Linked DNA regions of Homo sapiens: region 2 is linked to region 1. The links come from fine-mapping of genetic effects on gene expression. A gene starts in region 1. The other region holds a variant in brackets. All regions are shown on one strand. Distances are between the middles of the regions. Region 1 holds the start of ZBTB44-DT (ZBTB44 divergent transcript). Region 2 overlaps ZBTB44-DT (ZBTB44 divergent transcript).

What was found. PIP is the estimated chance that this variant, and not a neighbour inherited with it, causes the effect.
Region 2: its variant is fine-mapped to the expression of ZBTB44-DT in whole blood (TOPMed, PIP above 0.99). The same link has a PIP of 0.9 or more in adrenal gland, blood mononuclear cells, caudate, cerebral cortex, hippocampus and hypothalamus.

The regions. Positions count from the first base shown.
Region 1 is chr11:130,313,786-130,316,684 of GRCh38, forward strand. It overlaps ZBTB44-DT (ZBTB44 divergent transcript), which reads left to right and starts at 1,208. Exons shown (of 7, transcript NR_148980.1): 1 at 1,208-1,330. It overlaps ZBTB44 (zinc finger and BTB domain containing 44), which reads right to left and starts at 1,132. Exons shown (of 8, transcript NM_001301098.2): 1 at 590-1,132. RefSeq lists enhancers at 286-335, 1,496-1,595, 1,766-1,865 and silencers at 426-1,255, 2,166-2,225.
Region 2 is chr11:130,400,273-130,403,171 of GRCh38, forward strand. It overlaps ZBTB44-DT (ZBTB44 divergent transcript), which reads left to right. Exons shown (of 7, transcript NR_148980.1): 6 at 738-815. Among named protein-coding and RNA genes, the nearest start is that of ADAMTS8, 27 kb to the right of the region's middle. The variant T/G (reference allele first, on the strand shown) is at 1,511.

The DNA.
Region 1 (2,899 bases):
CGCAATTTCCTTTTAATCAGTTCTAACGTACCTGTCATTTCTCGAGGTAACCCCTTTTTCTGATTAGGCCAGCAATAAAACGACTAGATGCAGAGTGATCCTCAGGAAGGAAAGGAAAAGAGGTGTGTGTGTGTGTGTATGTGTGTGTGTGTTTGTGTGTGTGTATATATATATATATATATTTTTTTAAAGAAGTGCCATCTTTTTCTTTCTGTACCAGAGAAAAAGCAGAAGGGGAAAGGAGGAAAAAAAACAGGTCTGAGCCTCCCGGGTTCGACCAGGTGAGAGGTGGCAACACTCCGGCCGCTCCGGGTTAGGGTGTTGGGCAAATGGGCGTGCAAAGGACGGGCAGCTCCCTGGAAGGTCGGGGTAACTGCTCCGGGACCGCGGGGCCCAAGGCCGGTCTCCTCCCAGAAGGATTAAATGCCACCGAGGGGATCCCGTGGGGTGTCTCCCGGCGCGGACTAGGCTGACAGACCCGGCTCTCCGCTCCCTTCGGCGCCAGGTGGGGGCCACGCGGTGTCAGCCACGGGCAGCGTGCAGGGGCCGTCCCCCGCGCGACCGGAGCCCGCCCTCCCCTCCCCGTTACCTGCGGGCGGCGGCGCCGGGCCCGGAGGCCTGCTGCTCCTCCTCCTTCTCCCGCCAGGCTGGGGCGGCGAGGCGGCGGCGGCGGCGGCCCGGGGGGAGGGGGCGGAGCGCGGCTCGCTGCCTCTCTCCTCCCCCGGGAGGCTCAGGGGCCCCTATCTCGGGCCGCCGCGCCTAGGCCCGTGAGCAGCCTGTGGTGGGGCATGGCGGCACAGCCACCGGCGTGCCCGCGAGTGGGAGTGCGAGGAGGCGGGGAGGGAAGCACCCCCAGCGCTCGGAGGGGCCAGAGGGGAGGAGCGAGGGGGCCCGGGAGCCGCGCGCTGGCGACCGTTGGGGACGGTTGGCCGAGGGCAGGCGGTTGTTTGGGGAGCGCGGCGACGGCTCGCGTGTTCCCAGCGGGGCGGGGTGGGGAAGGGGAAGGGGACTGAGGGGAGGGGAGGGGGAGGTTGGGAGGGAGCCGCCGCCGCGCGCGTGCGGCCGGCGCCGCCGCCGTTGCCGCTCCGCTCACTCCAGCCTGTTTGGGGGCACTTTGTTTGTGTCCCACAATGCTCTGCGCCGGCGGCCTGGCTGGGGAAGGGGAGGAGAAGGGGGCGGGGCGGAGCGCGCTCGGGGGCGGGGCTCGGGGCGGGGAAGGAAACGTGATGATTGCGCAAGCGCAGAAAATGGGCCCTCTTGGCCGTCGGGACTTGTACTGTTGGTGACTCCGTCTCCTTAGACGGTGGAGCCTGCGTGACCCAGAAAGGCCGTGAGTCTTGACACTGTATTTTTGCATATGTGCGCACATGTGCCGATTTACATTCACATGCCCCATAAGCCCTGTCCCATTTGTCCTTCCTCTAAGCCGTCCTCTTACCCAGTTCCCCTCTCACACCTGAGAAGCATTTCTCCGCAGGAGTCACATTTATAGCATTATTTTTTTCTTCGAACTAAAAACATAACTCCTATTTTCTCGGGTAGTTTTTGTAGGGAGGTCGAAATAGAAACACTTCAGCCCCTCTTCGGCGAGGGAGGTTAGTTGGTAAGGTGCCCATTGTTCACCCATGGAAACAGGCCTGCCAAGGGCCGCCCCGCAGACAGGTGAGCCCGCGCCCCCGTCCTGGGCGGACTGCGACATGCGGCGGGTGTCTGGATTGCGTGGCTCCTCGGGCCTCCTCGCAGTGCTTGCTCTCTTCCGTTCTAGCACTTGCCTCGGTGACCTGGCAGGACGTGCGGTTCTTGAGATGAGTGGAGAAACGGACTCCCAGGTCCCTCTCGTTCTTCCAACACAGGGACAGCTAGAGCTGCTCCAAAAATATACCCTACTTCTTCCACAACCGTGAATCTGTCATTTTTACTGCACCATCACTTACTTCCTGGCCTTCCCGGAGGAAGTGTGCGGGCCTCCCCGAAGTAACCGGTACCGCCCGGGGGGTTTTGAAGTTCTTGGTCAACTGCAAAATCAATCAACCTAGTTAACTCCTAGGGCCCTAAGTCTTGGCTTCCCCTGGCCAGGCGGGCGAGCGCTCTCCACACCGCCCCCGGAGGTCATAGGGGTTCCCGGGACTGCAGGCGGCAGCGCCCCAGGTGCCTGGGGGCGGGCGGGGTGCGGGCAGGTGCTCCTTGGGCGCTTTCTGTTTTCCCACGCCTCCAGTTTGCAAACCGAAAGACTTCTTTCCAGAGGGTTTTGTGCAAGGTGGGTGGACGTCCCGCTGAAGTAGAGTGGATTTTCCTTTTGAAACACTTGGCAACATCTCACATTAATTCACTCTGAGAGACAAGCAGCCAAGCACCTGAACACCCTGACACTTGCAATCTTCTTTAGGAATAAAGGCAATAAAAACAACTTCTGTTTTTATAGTCCTTCGCAGTTTCCAACAAGTTTTCAAGCATGTATAATGTTATCTAATCCTTACGGCAACTGTAATTCACAGGTTTTATCACAGGTTTCTATTATTATTCCCACTATCATTCTTATTATTCCCATTTCAGAGATGAGAAAAATCAGAAAGATGCGAACTAGGCCCAGAAACTTTTGCACTAAGTTTTGAAGAGGGGAAGGGAAAGAAGGCGGAATGCTTACCTGGGAGAGGACTGGCGGCCACAGAGCAGGGCTCAGGAAAGGGCATGAGCTGGGGCCCTGGTGAGGAATGTGTGAGAATGTATGTAGGTGGTAAGCAACTGGACAAGAATCAGGGTGGAAATGAAGTAGTCAAATCCTATCTACCTCTCCTAGTGCCTTTAACAGGATAGTCAATAAAAGACCATGAGGCAAGTCTTTTCTAAGTGCTTCTCCAGGGGCTGTGGTGGCAGCTCCTCAACTACTACACTGACACAA
Region 2 (2,899 bases), 86 kb after region 1:
CGGTATTGCTGAGAGGGGGTCTGCTCGGGTTGCTGGACAGTTTCCATCAAACGCTGTAACTTTATGGTGGCACCAGTGTGCTCAGGGCTGGGATTCCCCCGGGGTGTGGATCTGCTTGTAGCAGGATGACGTGAGAGGTGAGAGGTGGGGAGAGGGGAATGGGTGCCGTGTGAGGCTCTGCCTGCTGAGCAGCACAGAGAGTCTGTGGGGCAAGGGCAGTGAGAACACTGGCAAGATTGAGGTGGAGGCGCTGAACGTGGAGTCCAAGCAGCTCAGGGAAAGCTGAAGACAGAGGAGCAGGAAAGATGGATGGGGGAAGGACACGTGCGGAGGCGGTCAGGGCATGGGGAAGGATGCATTTATGGGAAAGATCTGGGAAGATGGGAGATTGTGGTTGAGGAGGAGGAGATTTGATGTAGGACTTCAGAGGTGGAGCAGTTCTGAGTAATGAGCAGCTTCAGAACGTGGCTTCAGGGCAGCCTCGTTGAACCTTGTCACTGATGGGACCCTCTCTTCCATCCCATGTCCACATGGCTTCTCTCCTTGCAGCCTCTGACGCACCTCCCCCGCAGCTACCCTTTTCCTATTTTCTGGTCCAGCAAGAGGAACTCACAGCATCTTTTCTTACTTCCGGAGAAATTCATTCCACATGTGTCTGATTCATTCGCGTTTACAGAAACTTGAAATTTCCAGTGTCCAAAAACCCTTTCAACTATTTTTTTTCTTCCCTTTCTTAGAAACAGGAAGTTGTGTTTGGCTGCGGACAAACTCTCTCAGTGCCCCTGGGACTTACAAGATGTTTGGAATGAGGAACGGTGAGGTCTGGGGAAGGCTTCTTTCCTCTCTCCTTTCCTGGGGCGATTCGCATCTGCCAGGGCTGGGCTGGGCAGCTCTGGGGGCTGGAAGGCCAGCCGGAACCTTCCTGTCTCTTTCTACTGAGCCCCAGGCCTGAGGGAAAGTATGTTCTAAAGAGACAGGTGGCTTTCTTGCTCTCTGCTTGTCATTACGGTTCAGAATGCACTTGTGCACTGGTGTCATGTCTCTTCCCAGTACTTGAGCAGTGGCTGTGATGAGTCCCTTGATCTATTTCAGGGGGTGTGGGCTGGCCGGCACTCAGTTTTAAGCAAGTCCTGCTCTTTCCAAAGTGGAAGGTCAGAAAAACTCCCCACCTGAAGAAGAACGAGCCAGGGAAGTGTGGTACCAGCTGTTTAGGACCACACCTATTGGTTACGTCTGGCCAGGTCATTCTGCAGTGTTGACCTGGAAAGCACACAGGTGCTTAGGAGGGGCTGGCCAGGGGCAGGGAAAGTGTGGGAGTCACAGCCCACCCACTCCGTTCGCGGGACCCTCCAGTTTTTACTGTTGCTCGTTGTGTTCTCCTGTGTTGTTTAGAATGTTGTCATATGTACGGTCAATACAACCACAGTATTTGTCGCATTAGTGATCACCAACATTGAGCCAATGAAGACGCTGGCTTAGATGGGTGACTTCTTCTTTCCCACATTCCACA[T/G]GCAGCTCTCCCAATGCGAGCTCAGCGGAGGCCCCCAGAAAAACGTGGGGAGGAGAGTTTTCCCCATAAGACAGACTGTCCTTCAGCCCCGGCCACCAAAGAGGAGTAACCCGGGCCTGCTGTTCTCTGGGACTGAATGCGGCTGCATCCTTCCCTTCCTCTGCTTCCTGTCCCGGTACTTACTGACGGTGCACATGCGGGGCTTGGGGAAGCTGAGTGTCTAACCGCGGTGCAGCTACGGATGGGAAATTCTGGGCAGGGACGAGCCTGTCTTCACCTGAGGAATTCCCTCCCACATCACACAGGGCAGAGTGGGAGTGGAGGAGGGCAGAGGACACGTCTCAGGGCCAGTAACCTAGGCTTATAGAAGACGTCATCACCGTCCTCATGATGTTCACCCCGTCTCCTGTTTTTTGGGGCCATGTGTTCCGAAATGTAGCTTCAACTCATCATAGGGGCAAAAAGAAGTGATGAGTCTGTGGCAGCAGAAATCTGGGAATCCAAGGGTCGTGCTACATCTAGTCCTCTTTGATAAATTCTGCCTTCCTGTTCACATTTTTCGAGAAACCATTTTGAATTCCCAAACAGCAAAGGAAATGCTGCAGGTTCCTGGAGGGACCTGGTGATCTGGGGCAGAGCACACGGAGTCGAGATTGCTGCGGGGTTCACGAGCCTCCCCTCCTGGGACCAGGGGCACCTGGGCAGGGTAGTCTGCACCACGCAGGAAAGCCCAGTACACGCAGCTGCTCAACGCTGCAGACGCCATAGCGCAGGGCTGACAAGGCCTCCCTCTTTATCTGCCCTGGACCACAAGTGGAAAATATCAAGACAAAGCAAAAGCCAGTATCCCTTAAGAACTTTCCAATTGTTCTTGTCATTTGTAGTTTTGTTTTTTGGGGGGTGTGGGGAGGGAGGGGTGGTTTGAAACAACTCCGGAGCACACTCCAGAGGAAAACAGGAAGGGTGACATGTTTGGACACCAGAAAAGAGGAAGAGTCCTCACTAAGAGGGTGACTTGGTTAAAAAGTTCAAGCACAAAGGATGTAGAAGCAGGTGGATGTCATCAGAGAACAGATGCGGATCTAGTGAGATGGGTCCTACCACCCCTGGAATATGTTCCTGGGAGAGGGGTGGTCTGCTAGAGTGGACTGGGAATAGTAATATTGCATACTTTTGTAAATTCACAAAACCCTCTGATCTGTGATAGAGGAATAAAGGGCAGAGGATAAACCCCAGATAAAGATTCACTTATCTTAAAAATGAAAGGTTGGAAATTAACTTTATGCTACTGTACCACCTTCGAAGTATTTCTGGCAGGTGCCTGGAGGATTCAGATTAATGACCAAATTACCTGCCAAGTCAGGGCCTCCCATTAGAAGAGAGTACCAG